Homo sapiens: one gene and its partner. The protein of the gene in region 2 interacts with the protein of the main gene of each other region in a biochemical or structural test. Each region holds a gene or a part of one and is shown on either strand. Other genes may lie near its edges.

Region 1 (7,978 bases), on a different chromosome or scaffold from region 2:
TAAATTTACATATTAAAAACTTTTACAATGGGCATATTCTTTGAATCAGCAATTCTTTTAGGAATATTCAGAAGAAATAATTATAGATATGCAAATAATTATGCATCACAATGCTTTTCACAGTATTGTTTATAATAGTAAAAAATTGAAAACCTTATTGTCTATGAATAGATAATACATTACAGTACATTCACATAAGGAAGTCTATTTATTGTTGAGCTATATTTTACTGGTTGCAAAAATTAAGAGATGTGTGTGAAAGCACTTTGTCAACTGTAAACTGCTGTTCAAATGTGGTGTTTATTACTAGAATTACAACGTGCCCCTGAAAGGCCTTAGAGACACAGAAAAGCCAATAGATAGTAATTAGACTCAGAACTCTGCTATCTGTCCTGCTTTTCTTGGTACTAATAGTTCTCACTCAGACAACAGAGTACCTAGAAGTCAAAGTGTACTTGGTACACCATGGAATGATGAGAACTAAACTTTACATTATTTTTAAAATTTGTATTAATAAATTTTTTTTGTAGAGATGGGGGTCTTGCTATGTCGCCCAGGCTGGTCTTGAACTACTGGCCTCCAGTGATCCTCCTGTTTTCCTCCAAAGTGCTGGTATTACAGGTGTAAGGCACCACACCCAGTTGAGAAGTGAACTTTAAAAGATAAAATGTCACCTTTAGATCCTCTGGCCTCACCCATTGGTGAGTGCAAGTATTGTACATTTACAGAAATATCCCAGATTTCAGCTGCAGCTCAGCATCCTTCTGCCGGTTCTCATGTACTCTTCTGTTCCTGCTGTTCAGCATGGCTGCTCTGTCCAGAAGGTGCAGACCAGCCTTTGCAAATCTTCACGCTACCCTTGGGCTACTGCCTTGCTTTTGCCAACCTCCTGTGCCCAGATGATGGACACATCGTGTTCTCACCATTGCTTACCTACCTGGGTCACTCACCTCCAATGCCCTTTCTCTTTCCTAGACAACTGGAAAACTCCTTCCACTATTGTTTACCAGCAACTTAGAGGAGTTTTCTTCATAGCAGAACTGCTATGAACCTCCTAAGAGCTCTTTCCTTTATTTCAGAACTGGTTTTTTCTGATAATGCTCAAACCAGAGGAACAAGGGATAGTAGCCTAGGTCAGGAAAATGGCTGGACACAGCCTCTACCTCTACCTGCTGCTCAGTTTGGGCCACAGCATGATTCCTCTTCTTGAAATTTTCTCTCAGTGGCATGTGTTTCTCCTGCCAGTTCTGTTTCCTTCAGGGAACTTTGGGTCTACTTTAACATCCATGTTCACCATGTGCTGGGTGCTGTTATTAACGTTTTACAAATATTGTTTGTGAGGCAACCTTGAGGTAGGTCCTACCCGTAGCAAACACCCTTTCATGACTGAGGGAACTGAGGCAACCTAAGTAAGTTTCCCTAAATCACATAGCTAGTAGGTGATGGAACCAGATTCAAACCAAGCATTTTGTCCCAGGGCATAATGAACCCCATGCTATGCAGTCTATTAGACAGGTTTGTGCATTATCGTATCTCAGCCTCATCTGTGGACTTATTTCATAGTTTCTCCTGCAAGATTTCTGGGCTCCCACAGAAAATCAAGGATGTAACTGGGTCTGTTTCAATGATCCTAAATATTTCATGAGTTATACTCCAGGCACTGCCTTCTCAGAGCACACAGTGAACTTCATGGGGGCTGTTTCCATCCTATACAAATTATATAGTTTTCAAAAACAACACTTTTATTCTAGATTTTAATAAAGGCAAATGTAGCAGGCATCAAAAGGTTAAGAAAACTCATGGAAGCAAAACTTTTGGTTGAGAAATTCAGTTCATTAGCTTATTTTTTTGAAGTGAATTTGAGAAGAAGTGTTTATGATTTATACTCCATATTTTTCACCACCTTTACAGATTCTAACCTGATCCAACCAACCGAGTTATTACCCTATTAGCCCCTTAACTGGTCTTCCTTATTCCACTGACCATTTACAGGTGATTCCTCTAGGAAGCAGCCACAGTGACTCTTTTCACAATTCTGCTTTGAGTCTTTGCTCAAAACCCATCCAAGCCTTCCTATCTGACTCAGTGGTCCTAAGGCTAGGGTATGAGTACTCCTGGGGTACTTCAGTGAAGGAAAATTTTCCAAGGGGTACATAAAAAAGTAAGGGTAGTTTTAAGGGAATTACTCCATCATATATGTGAGTGTGTAGATACATACATGTATACATATATAGTTTTTAATGCAGTAAAGACTGTGGCAATGAAAAATGGAGTTGATACAGGACCTTATCTCATTCTAGCAATGTTATATGCATTCATGCCTACTCGAAATAATTAGGGGAAGGGGGAAGACTCCCAGCCATATCATTAAAACATTCCCAATACTTTTCCATGTTTAAAAAATATAACATTTTAATATACTTTAAAAAATGGATAGTATTAAGCCACTTTAGTGTTTACTTCCCTATTAGATTAAAAATAATTTTTAAATGTCAGTATTACAGAATGTCACAAATTAAACTCTGCAACTATTTAAACTTCTGAAAAAATTTAGTCAACTTACAATGTTTGAGGAAAGAAAACAGCCTTCCAAAATTCTTTCAAAGGGCACAAAAGTTAAAAAAAAAATTGAAGACCATTTCTGTACATGACCTGGCTCCCTTAATAACTCTCTTATCTCATGTCCTACTATTCTCTCCCTTGTTCAAGCCACTCCAGCCACACTGACTCCTCCTCTAACAAGCCAAGAATCCGTTTCCCTCAGGCCCTTTGCACTTGTTATGTGTTCCTCTCCTGCTCTTCTCCAAGACAGGTTCCTTCATCTGATCAACAGGGGCCTTCTTCAATCACCTCTAACCCCTTTTACCCCACTTATTCTTTTCTTCACAGCACTTACCACTCCCTGGCATGTATCTATTCTCAATCTTTTTCTCTATTAGATTGTAAACCCCTTGAATGCAGGGAGCTCCTCTGTTTTGTAATCCCAGTGTATCTCTAAAACACTATGACAATAAAGAGGTCAGGAAACATTTTTGAATAAATTTTAAAAAGTTTTCAGGAGGCTGGGCGCAGTGGCTCATGCCTGTAATGCTAGCATTTCCAGCGGCTGAGGCGGGCCAATCGCTCGGGCCCAGGAGTTTCAGCCTGGGCAACATGGTGAGACCCCAGCCTCTTCGAGGCAAAGGGAAAAAAAAGATCAGCTAAGTCATGGTGGCGTGCATCTACGGTCCCAGGTAATTGCGAGGAGCACGGCTTGAGCCTGGGAAGTCGAGGCTGCAATGAAATGTGATGACGCCACTGCACTCCAGCCAGGGCGACAGAACGAGGAGGTCTCAAAAAAAAAAAAAGTTTTCACGTGGTTTAAGGACTTACAGCACCTTTCTTGGGAACACTAACAGGAGACCAAAGCATTTCATGATCTTAACACTAAAACAGTTGTTGCACTACATAAAATCCTCCAAATACCTTTTTTTTTTTTTCAAATAAAAAGGCAACTTTCTGAAAGCTTTTCTTTTTTTTTTGAGACGGAGTTTCGCTCTGTCGCCCAGGCTGGAGTGTAGTGGCGCTATCTCGGCTCACTGCAGCCTCCGCCTCCTGCCGGGTTCAAGCCATTCTCCTGCCTCAGCCTCCTGAGTAGCTCGGATTACAGGCGCACGCCATTACACCCGGCTAATTTTTATATTTTTAGTAGAGACGGGGTTTCACCATATTGGCCAGGCTGCCCACGAACTCCTGACCTGACCTCAAGTGATCTGCCCGCCTCGGCCTCCCAAAGTGCTGGGATTACAGGCGTGAGCCACTGCGCTTGGCCTGAAAGCTTCTACTACCATTGTTGTAAGGGCATTTGTCACCCAGCTCAACCCAGGACACTTAAAGTGGGACCTCAGAAGGACGCAGTATTGGTTATATCCGTGGCTCTCCAAACTGACATACATAAGAATCAGCTGAAGGGACTTTTCCCCCTCCGTCGGCTCTCTCCCTCACTTCCTGATTCAGGTCTGGGGACTGGCCCTGGCATCTCTGCTTTGAAAAACTCCTCCGTTGATTCTGATACGTAGCAACTCCTGAGAATCACCTTAAGATGCCAAAAATAGCTGTTAAAGAGTTTCTTCCTCACTCGGTCTTTTCAGCCTATTTCTGATAGATCCTCAGTTCAAAAACAAAAAGCAAAAAAAAAACAAAAAAAAAAACCAAAACCAAACAAACAATAAGCCCCGCTTTAGTGCTCCACGGCCACCCAAAGGAACGCGGCTGGTCTACGCACAGCAGAGACCCAGGAGGTCCCGGCGATCGAGCGGCGCGGCAGGTGAAACTTCCGCGGAGACGCCCGGGACACGCTCGCAGGGACCGGAACCGTCCCGGCTACCACCCTTCCGTATGCACCACCGCTGTGTCGGAGTTCATAACCAACCCCAGCCAAAGGCTACCCAGCGTCAACGGCCTCTGGCTTTAAAAAAAAAATCTCCCTTCGGGTTAAAGAGCCGCGGCACTGACGCAAGGAACTGGCTTCGAGGGTCCGGGACCGCTCCGCGCCCGCGAACCGAGTTCCCGCCTCCCTCGGGAGGACGTCCGTGCGTACGTGCGCGTGCCGCAACCGCCCTCCTTCAAACGCGCGACGCGAGGGCGGGGGCGCCGCGTGCGCGCGCGCTCTCGTTGGTTCGCTCTCTCGCTAGCTCTCGGCTGCCGCTCTTGCTGCGGCTGCGGCTGGGGCTGGGGGCGGCGGCGGCGGCGACGCGGGCGGCGGGCGGCGCGGGGCGGTCCGGCGGGTTCAAAGAGGAAAACATGGCGGAAAACAAAGGCGGCGGCGAGGCTGAGAGCGGCGGCGGGGGCAGCGGCAGCGCGCCGGTAACTGCCGGGGCCGCCGGGCCCGCCGCGCAGGAGGCGGAGCCGCCTCTCACCGCGGTGCTGGTGGAGGAGGAGGAGGAGGAAGGCGGCAGGGCCGGCGCTGAGGGCGGCGCGGCCGGGCCCGACGACGGGGGGGTGGCCGCGGCCTCCTCGGGCTCGGCCCAGGCTGCTTCATCTCCTGCGGCCTCAGTGGGCACTGGAGTTGCCGGGGGCGCAGTATCGACGCCGGCTCCAGCTCCAGCCTCGGCTCCCGCTCCGGGTCCCTCGGCAGGGCCGCCTCCTGGACCGCCAGCCTCGCTCCTGGACACCTGCGCCGTGTGTCAGCAGAGCTTGCAGAGCCGGCGTGAGGCGGAGCCCAAGCTGCTGCCCTGTCTTCACTCCTTCTGCCTGCGCTGCCTGCCCGAGCCGGAGCGCCAGCTCAGCGTGCCCATCCCGGGGGGCAGCAACGGCGACATCCAGCAAGGTGAGCCGGAGGCCCTGCCTGGCATCTGGGCCGCAAGGGATTTGCGCAACCCTAGAGGAGCTGGGGACGGAGGTGCTGGGGCCTGGGGCTGCTCGGACGGGCGCCATCCCGAGGGGTCTCTAAGGTGAAAGACTCGCCCCTGGGACACTTTCCAGAGAAGCTGGACCGCAAGAGATAAGGGGAGCATGAAGGGAGGGGTGCCGGCTGCGAGAGGCTGGGGGAGGGGACACTGGCTCCGAGGGAGGGTTTGTGATGTGCGGAACCCGGCCGAGCGCTGGTTCTGGAGCTGGCAGACCCGTACAGTGAGAGAAGGGGGATTTGGGAAACACGTTGTGAGGAAGCGTTTTGGCTGAAAGGGCCCGGGCCAGCGAGGTGTTGAGGGAGTAGGTAAGAGGTAAGGGCAGTGAAGATGGATTGCTTTGGAGGGAGGGGACTTGGCGTGTTCACAGATAGGAGAGAGGAGGACTATGGATTAAATGGAGGTGGAGAGAATATGTTGGAGAGCAAGGGGTCCAGAGAAGGCGCCTGGAAGAAAATTGTAAGATGACATGGGGAAAGAGAAACTCGGAAAGTGGACTGCATGGTTAGGGAAAATCCTAAGGTTTGGGGATGAAGGAGAAATGAACTTTGAAGGAAATTGAGAGTTAGGGAAAGCTGGGCATGAATTTGTTTTAGCTAATTGGCCGTTAATGAGCCCCTAGTGTTGGGGCACTGTGCTAGGATTGAATAAAGTACTCAATGAAGACTTCATTCACAGTCTAACAGGAGAAACATATAACTTGCAGCAGTGGAGGTGAGTCCTCAGTACAATGGTTGTGGCACAATAGAGGAAAGGTCAGGGAAATTTCACAGGAAAGGAAATCCATGAACAGGTTTCTTGAAGAATGAGTACCTCACTGGGTTGGAGGGTATTCAGGGCACAGGACACCCTTCTACATCCCTGGAACTAAAGACTGTGTAGGGTGATTGGTGGAAATTAGATTGGATTGATGGGCTGAAAAGATAAAGGTTTCACAGTCTCTTAAACTCTTGGGATCCAGGTGTAAGGACTTCAGAATATTTTGGGATTTTTCTTTTTTCTGGCAAGGTCTGTTATGTGAGACTTTTATCAGGGTCTGAGTTAACTCTATCAAACACGTTAATGTTTCTACATTGAAACACGTGAATGTCACGCTAATGGGATAGACGATAAATAACCTCCCAGCATTCACAGTGGGTTCTGTTGCAAACCAATGAAAAAAATTAAAATTTCAAAGCTTTTGAATTTCGGGACTGTAGGTAAGCGATTGTGGAGCTGCACTAAAGGGCTTGGAATTCATCCTGTAGAGTGTATCCTCGACATTGTGGACTGAAGGATGTTCCTGGAGGGCTTTCATATCAAGAGGATAAAAGGATCAGATTTCTGATCCAGAAAGATCACTTAGGGCACTTGAGGGATGAGGGAAGGCAAGGCTGGAGACAAGGAGACCAGTTAGGAGAATCCTGGCGGTTATCTAGGAAAGAAATCAACATTTGGAATGGGTAGTAAAGGAATGATATATCAGGTATTACAGAATGAAGCATTTTGGTTTGGGGGAACGGTAGGGTTTGGAAATCTACTTTGCCATCTCCTACTTACGACTTGGGCAGATGACCTTTTCTTAGCTTCAGTTTTCTCATTTGTGAAATGGGAAAAAAGTATATAACCTCATAGGGTTATTGAGAGAATGAAGTAAGATAAAATGTGTAAAGTGATTAGTACGTGGTAGTTACTAATGAAATGGTAGCTAGTATATTAATAGTAGTAACTAATAGTGGCTATGGGAATGGAGGGATGGGGGGAGTGTATTGAGATTGGTGTGAGGGAGACAAACGTAGAATTCCACATTTTTTGTTTGGTGGATGGCAATGCTATTAATACATATTCAGACACTGAAGCAGGGCTGGGGTGAGGGTGAGGGCTGGGGTGTAGGGAGGATAAAATGTTTTCAGATTGGGATGTTTTGGGTTTCTAGCATTATTGGTACATGTAGGTAAGAATGTTAAGAGTAAGGCTTTGGTTGTTGGAGAAGCTACTAATTGTTAGTAGGTGTTCAGAGAATAACTGCTGGTGGTCTGTGCACCCATGACCATAGTAAGACACATAGGATTCAGTGTTCTTGTGGGAACCTGGGTTAGGTAAGAGATTTAGAGGGAACCCAGAAATACAGATTGTGTTTGACTGATGTGGCTGAGGGACTGAGGTTATGAAATTGGCTCTCTGAAATTTATGAAGGAGAGAGAATAATATGTAAATCCCCTCTTCATTTCTTTATCCTTTCTTTTTGAAGGAGGGGGAGTAAGTGGAAGGGACTAACCAAATGCTGTCAATCTTAAGTAATATTTCTCTCTAACCAATATCTAAAACAAATTGAGTCTGGAATCCACCATGTTTTTGATTAAAAAAAATTTTTTTTTGAGACAGTCTCGCTCTGTTGCTCAGGCTGGAGTGCAGTGGCTCGATCTCGGCTTACTGCAGCCTCTGCCTCCCAGGTTCAAGCGATTCTTGTGCCTCAGCCACCCAAGTAGCTGAGATTGCAGGCGCATATCACCACGCCTGGCTAATTTTTCTGTTTTTAGTAGAGACGGGGTTTTGCCATACTGGTCAGACTGGTCTTGAACTCCTGGCTTCAAATGATCTGCCTGCCTCAG
Region 2 (7,377 bases):
CAAGCTAATCTACCTAAAGCACAACTCGAATCACTCTTCATCCACTCAAATACCTTCAACAATGTCTCTACTGCTCCTTGCAAAACAATGCAAACTTCCCGTGGTGAAGCCACGAAGGAGCCACCCTGAGCTGCTCGCCTGTCTTTCCTCTCACCGCTCTTTTTCTTTCTTTCTTTTTTTTTTTTTGAGGCTGAGTCTCCCTCTGTCACCCAGGCTGGAGTGCAATGGCGCAATCTCAGCTCATTGCAACCTCCACCTCCCAGGTTCAAGCTATTCTCCTGCCCTAGCCTCCCAAGTAGCTGGGATTACAGGCGCCTGCCACCACGCCTGGCTAATTTTTGTATTTTTAGTAGAAACGGGGTTTCACCATTTTGGTCAGGCTGGTCTTGAACTCCTGACCTCAAGTGATCTGCCCGCCTTGGCCTCCCAAAGTGCTGGGATTACAGGCGTGAGCCACCGCGCCCGGCCTCACCACTCTTCTTTAGACACTCCATGGTCCCCCATAGCTGGCTGCCTTCTCTTTCCTCGCCCCGTTTCATGATTCCTATCTGTGCCTTCACATTTGCTACTCTTAGTAGAAATGCTGCCTGTCTCATCAGAGGAAATGTCAGTCACCAGTCAATGTCCTTGTTCTACTGCTCTTGATGAGTGGGGCATGTAACCTACGCCCCTGGGCACAGATGAACAAACCAGTGGTACACACACGCTGGACCTAAGCTGGCCAGCTTTTCTCTTCCAGGCATCTTTTAGGTTTGAAACTGGAAAACTTGTCAATCTCTGCTGGGCTCTTGAGTGGAGGGGCCATGCAGAGAAATCACTTCCATGCGGAGGTAAAGGTGAGAAAAGGGAAGGAGGCACGCAGAGGGCACTCAAAGCAAGAGAAGCAGCAGGTCCAGAGAAAGTGGCGGGCCTGGCTCCTGCAGGCTTTTTCTGGTTCCTGTGACTCTATTTCCTGCCTATCGGTTCTCAGAGATACCTTTCCATCCTTGGAAGAATCTTTATTTTGTCCTTTATGATGGCTCTAGGGTTTCTGTTGTTGACAATCAGCTGATCTATGCCTGAAGAAGATACTTTTTTTTAAGAGACAGGGTCTCACTCTGTTGCCCAGGCTGGAGTGCAGTGGCACAATCCCAGCTCGCTGGCAACCTCTGCCTCCTGGGTTCAAGCGATTTTTGTGCCTCAGCCTCCTGAGTAGCTGGGGTTATAGGCATGCACCACCACGCTCAGCTTAGTTTTGTATTTTTAGCAGAGATGGGGTTTCACCATGTTGGTCAGGCTGATTTCGAACTCTTGGCCTCAAGCAATCCACCTGCTTGGGCCTCCCAAAGTGCTGGGACTAGAGGCATAAGCCAGCCACCACACCTGGCCTGGAAGATACTCTTTTATCTCCTTATCTGTCAAGATCTAGCTCAGTTGTCACCACCTCCAAGAAGCCCCAGAGGCTAACTGGTGGTCTCTCCTTCCAGACTATCAGCTTTACCACTCACTGGCTGAGTGATTTGGGGCAAATTATTTAACCTGATTAGGCTTAGTTTCATCATTTGTAAAATGGGAATAACAAAAGAATCAATCTTATAGGTTGAAATGAGGATTTTATCCTTTGGGTTAAGGTCTGAGTTGAAAAAGAAAAAAAAAGAAATGAGGAGTTTAAATAAGGCAGCCACATAAAAAGTACTCAGAACAGTGCTGAACAAACACTTCATGAATGATAGTGATTATTTTAATTTGATGGCCTCCTGGCATGAGTGTATGTACGTCAGGTCACCATCTAGATTATTACTTAGTTACTGAGTAGGCATGTCTGTAAAGTCTCAGGACCTTACCAGTGCCTGACATATAATGAGAGGTATCCCTGGCCACTACAGGGTCCTAAATTCACAACTAATAGAGAAGCACCGTTTCTACTGTCAATGATAAATTGAGAAAACTTATGAAGCCAAGAGACAGACTGGCAGGAAACTGTTCAAATACAAAAGCAGTTTAAAAAAATGTGTGAAAGACAGAATACAATAGGCTACTATGAGAAGAAACAGCTCTAGTGCCAACCGTAGGCCGTTGGCATCAGACACAGGCCTGGGTACAGGCTGTGACTGTCTCCCAGCAGCGTCCGCACTGAGGGGGCACAAGACATTCACCACAGAGTACTCAGGACAGCAGCAAACACACGGACACTGTCTCAGTGATCAACAGCAAAAGAACACTTCCGCTACCCTCTATCTCTGACATAAAATGTGGAGTGTCATGCGAGCATTAAATATACCATGACAGCTCTTTAAAACACCATGTACTCTAAGAGGGAATAAAAAGCTAATATAAAACTTTGTGGGCCGGGCACAGTGGCTCACACCTGGAACCCCAGCACTTTGGGAGGCCAAGGCCAGTGGATCGCCTGAGGTCAGGAGTTCGAGACCAGCCTGGCCAACATAGTGAAACCCCGTCTCTACTAAAAATACAAAAAATTAGGCCGGGCGTGGTGGCTCACGCCTGTAATCCCAGCACTTTGGGAGGCCAAAACCATCCTGGCTAACATGGTGAAACCTCGTCTCTACTAAAAATACAAAATATTAGCCGGGTGTGGTGGGTCATGCCTGTAGTCCCAGCTACTCGGGAGGCTGAGGCAGGAGAATTGCTTGAACACGGGAGGCAGAGGTTGTGGTGAGCCAAGATCGCGCCACTGCACTCCAGCCTGGGCAACAAGAGCAAAACTCCGTCTCAAAAAAAAAGAAAGGAAAAAAAACACTTTGCGGTGGACACTTTGGCAATATCTAACAAAATCCAAATTCCCCCATCTAGAAATTCATTCTGTGTGCACCACAGCACATACGGAGGATGGTCACTACAACAGAATCTAAATGACCATTATTAGAGGCTTAAATAAACTGCACTGAATACAATGAAATGCTATGAAATCACTAAAATGAATGAGCTAGACACATGCAGCACTGAAAGCCCAGCCACAGGAAGGATTTGAGAAATACGCATGTGAGGCCAGGCACAGTGGCTCACACCTGGAATCCCAGCACTTCGGGAGGCCGAGGCGGGCAAATCACCTGAGGTCAGGAGTTCGAGACCAGTCTGGCCAACGTGGTGAAACCCCGTCTCTACTAAAAATACAAAAATTAGCCAGGCGTGGTGACGCACGCCTGTAATCCCAGCTACTCGGGAGGCTGAGGCAGGAGAATCACCTGAACTCGGGAGGCAGAGGTTGCAGTGAGCGGAGGCTGTGGTGAGCCAAGATGGTACCACTGCACTCCAGCCTGGGTGACAGAGCAAGACTCTGTCTCAAATAATAAACAAGAAAGAAAGAAAGAAAGAAATATGCCATGTGGAAGAAAGGAAGTTGTGGAACATGTACCTCATATGCACGTATCCGTTATGTGTGTGCTCACACACAGGCACAGAGACATGCACAAAAACATACATACACAGAAACAAATTCTAGAAGGAGCTACCCCAAACTGTTAACAGTAGTTATCTCTGGAGGGGCAGGATTATGGGAGACTTTTAAACTTTCTACATTATAAATCACTATTTTCTGCATTGTGTCAAATACTATACACAACTTTGGTAATCTAAAAGGAAATAATGCAGATATTCATACTTAAAAAAAATCTTATGAAGAATTCTAACACTGGAAAATGCTTATAAAGATTATAAAACCAAATATAAATTATACATATAATTTACTATGTAAAAAAATACAATAAAAACTAGGCTATTAGGAAATAGGCTAAACTACTGAATTGTGGAATTGTGGGTAACTTCCTTTTTTCTTATTTGTGAAATTTGCTACAATGAGAAATCCTTTTATAATCACTAGCAATAAGCAACTTCAAAATTTCTACCTTGAACAAAGTGACAGCTTTGTCACCCACAGAACACTAGGACCAGACGATACCTTTAAGCAGATGTCCCTCAGCTGTGCTCTGACTTCTGCTACCAGCGTCATATTCTTGCTGTTGACAAAATTCTCTTTGCACCAATCCTGAATAGGAGAAAGAGTGATATCACAATCCACTCATTCACCATTTATATGTTCACAGAGACGGGGTCTTGCTCTGTTCCCTAGGCTGGAGTGCAGTGATACAATCATAGCTCACTGCAAACCAATCCTCCCACCTCAGCCTCCCAGATAGCTTGAACTATCTGCACATGCCACCATGCCCAGCTAACAATCCTCTCATCTCTATAGAGAAAATATAACAACATTTTTAGAACACAGTTGAATTCAGAGAAAAAACTTCAGGTGCCAAAAAGAAACGTAGGAAAATATCTTTATATCAAAAAACATGAACTATAAGAAAAGTGTTAATAATTTAAACTAAAGAAAAACTTGAAGTTTCCCAGATTGGGATATTTGTCTCATCATACCCAATAAATGATTAGAATCTCTAGAATTGATTTTAAAAGTTCTACAAGTCATTAAGAAAAAGACCAACGACCCAGTAGAAAAATGGACAAAGGATATGAACAGACACAGAAAACAAAACAGAAATGCCCAGTCAATTTATGTAAGACTTCTTTCTTTTTTCTTTTTTTGGAGATAGATAGAGTCTCGCTCTGTCACCTAGGCTGGAGTGCAGTGGCACGATCTCGGCTCACTGCAACCTCTGCCTCCCAGGTTCAAATGATTCTCATGCCTCAGCCTCCCGAGTAGCTGGGATTACAGGTATGCACAACCACGCCCGGCTAATTCTTGTATTTTTAGTAGAGACGGGGTTTTGCCATGTTGGCCAGGCTGGTCTGGAAGTCCTGGGCTCAAGTGATCCACCTGCCCTGGCTTCCCAAAGTGCTGGGATTACAAGCTTGAGACACTGTGCCTGGCCCTGGGCAAGTTTTTCAACTGCACGAAGCTTCGTTTCCATGACTACATGTTTCATGAATATAAAAAATAATAATTATAGTGCTCATTTCTTAGGATTACTTTACTGAATAAATGAGATCTTACATTAAGAAGTGCTTAGCATGGGGCTTGGCACAGAGTAAGTACTCATTCATTGGTACGCACTATCATTATTAGACATATTACTTAATCAAGTTCCAATTAAGTTTTGATGGGTTGGGAGTCACTTAAGTCTTGTTGACTTAAACACATTCGGAACAGAGACCAGAATGACACTGCTTCGGTACTGAAGCATTTCTGAAATGCTGTCTGGCTTTCTTTTTGTGATTCTTTAGATAATTTAGCCAAAAAGGGAAAGCGTACTTTTTGCACGGCTTCAGTAGAAAAAGGGAAGCACATAGCAGAGACAAGCAGCTATCGCTGGAGAACAGGTGCAAGACAAGGCTCACCTTATTTCCGCCTAGGTTTTTGAAGGTCCGATAGATATTGAGCAGGGTCATGTGATCCCCCTCGCTGGATATGAACTTCTTGCGGACCCCTTGCACTTCCTCTCGCCGGGAAGGAGGGTTGTGGAGGACGCTGTCCACAGACAGCAGGGAGACAATGGTCAGGATCTCCTCTGTACAGTGGAATTTGGGGGACATGAGGATGGTCTGCAAAGCAAAATTTAAAATTGTGTAAACCCAGCTTTCTCCTAGCTTTAGAATGCACTATTTCTGTACATTGCTTTTGCAGTTTCCCTTCTAAGGAGTTAAAGGGCAGGTATTTCTAAAACCATGGCGATGTACATTAGTGTTATTTCACTCTTTAATATTCAATAAAACAGGTGACTGCCTTCCCTACAGAGTTCCAAATTTCTTGTGGGTAGGGGCTCTTAACTTCATCTCTTTGAATCCCACACTGAACATGAATCAGGGCTATTTGCAAACTAGGGGTTGGTAATTATGTAAGAGAAAAAGTGAGATTAATCTAGAAGCACTGGGTAGATGGTACTACTTTGGGACGGTTAACTGTAATGTACAGAAAGAGGACTGAGGAGAGGGTATCATTTACTTTGGCAAATTTGGGTTCTAAAGGAAATGCTGCCATCTTTCTTCCCATTGGAGTCAGGGTAAGCTGGTCATCCTTATGTTCAAGAGCACCTAACAGGTCCAGTTGGGCAATGGCCGCCTGAATGTGATCTAAAGAAACAGAGACATAAAAAGGAGCCAAAAGTCCAAAAAAATGAAGTTGCAGCTAGTTCAGTATTTCTGGGAGCTTCTGATAATTCTACATCAAACAACAGCAAAAATCATAACCGCCACTGCCCCCTTGACACACTTGTCAAAGAACGACATCACTGTCTTTAGTTCAATTCCCTTTTCTTTTTTGAGACAGAGTCTTGCTCTGTTGCCCACACTGAAGTGCAATGGCGTGATCTCGGCTCATTGCAGCCTCTGCCTCCTGGGTTCCAGCGATTCTCCTGCCTCAGCCTCCCCTATAGCTGGGACCACAGGCGCCCACCACCGCGCCCAGCTAATTTTTGTATTTTTAGTGAGACGGGGTTTCACCATGTTAGCCAGGCTGGTCTCAAACTCTTGACCTCAGGTGATCTGCCCACCTTGACCTCCCAAAGTGCTAGGATTACAGGTGTGAGCCACCATGCCCAGCCTCAATTTTCTTTTTAAATGACCTGTAATTTGGCAATATGTATGTAGATTTTGAATATACACATTAAAAGTGTAACATCTGACCCAGCAATGTTACACTTACGAATTTCACCTGCAGATACACATCGCACAGAGACCATATCGCCAGAACCAAACACATAACAGTGGAAATAGCAGTTGTCTCAGGGGCCAGCTGGGGAGGCTGGGAGACAAGGGGATGAGAAGGACATTATTACTATTTACTATTTTATATATTTTAAACTTTGAACCATGTAAATATAGTACCTATTAAAGAATAAAAAAGCATTTCTAAGGATGTAGTAAATATATACATCCCAATAAGGAGTGATCTGTAAAATGTATTAAATGAAAAAAAGCAGTGTGTTTCTCATTGCTTTTTTAAAGCAATATTTATCAACTGAAGGATGGATAAATGCATTTTGGTTTATTCACAGAATGGAATAGCACTTAGTGTGAAAAAGCATCAGCACAAATATACTATACGGAACAAGCTGAATGAAAACCGCTTACTCAAGAATAACTAACATAAACTTACAAACAACAGGTGGTTTAGGGATACATACGCATATAGTAAAACAGTGAAGAAAAGCAAGGCAATTACAAACAAAATATGGAAGAGTGGGTACCCCAAAAGAGTGGAAGGAGGCGAGGGCAAGTGGGTGGGGGGGACTCCTGGGGGCTTCAATTGGGTACACAGGTGTTAGATTTTAACCATTCCTTACACCTTATGTATCTTCTTCATTTGTATGTAAGAATTTAGCAATGAAAGAAAAAAAATCAAGCACAGAACAATACTCAATGTGTGTTGCTATTTGTGTTTTAAAACATACTACAGGCTGGGCGTGGTGGCTCACGCCTGTAATC

What was found.
Region 1: of the proteins of DHX33 (region 2) and TRIM33, one has a biochemical effect on the other in vitro, tested with the Homo sapiens proteins (one study listed by BioGRID).

Annotation. Positions count from the first base shown.
Region 1 is NC_000001.11:114,507,881-114,515,858, reverse strand, and holds the start of TRIM33 (E3 ubiquitin-protein ligase TRIM33), read left to right. Parts: upstream 1-4,655; 5' UTR 4,656-4,782; coding exon 4,783-5,308; intron 5,309-7,978. UniProt on the Homo sapiens protein: Acts as an E3 ubiquitin-protein ligase. Promotes SMAD4 ubiquitination, nuclear exclusion and degradation via the ubiquitin proteasome pathway. According to PubMed:16751102, does not promote a decrease in the level of endogenous SMAD4.
Region 2 is NC_000017.11:5,444,911-5,452,287, forward strand, and holds part of DHX33 (ATP-dependent RNA helicase DHX33), read right to left. Parts: intron 6,025-7,377; coding exon 5,897-6,024; intron 5,497-5,896; coding exon 5,293-5,496; intron 3,986-5,292; coding exon 3,899-3,985; intron 1-3,898. UniProt on the Homo sapiens protein: Implicated in nucleolar organization, ribosome biogenesis, protein synthesis and cytoplasmic dsRNA sensing. Stimulates RNA polymerase I transcription of the 47S precursor rRNA.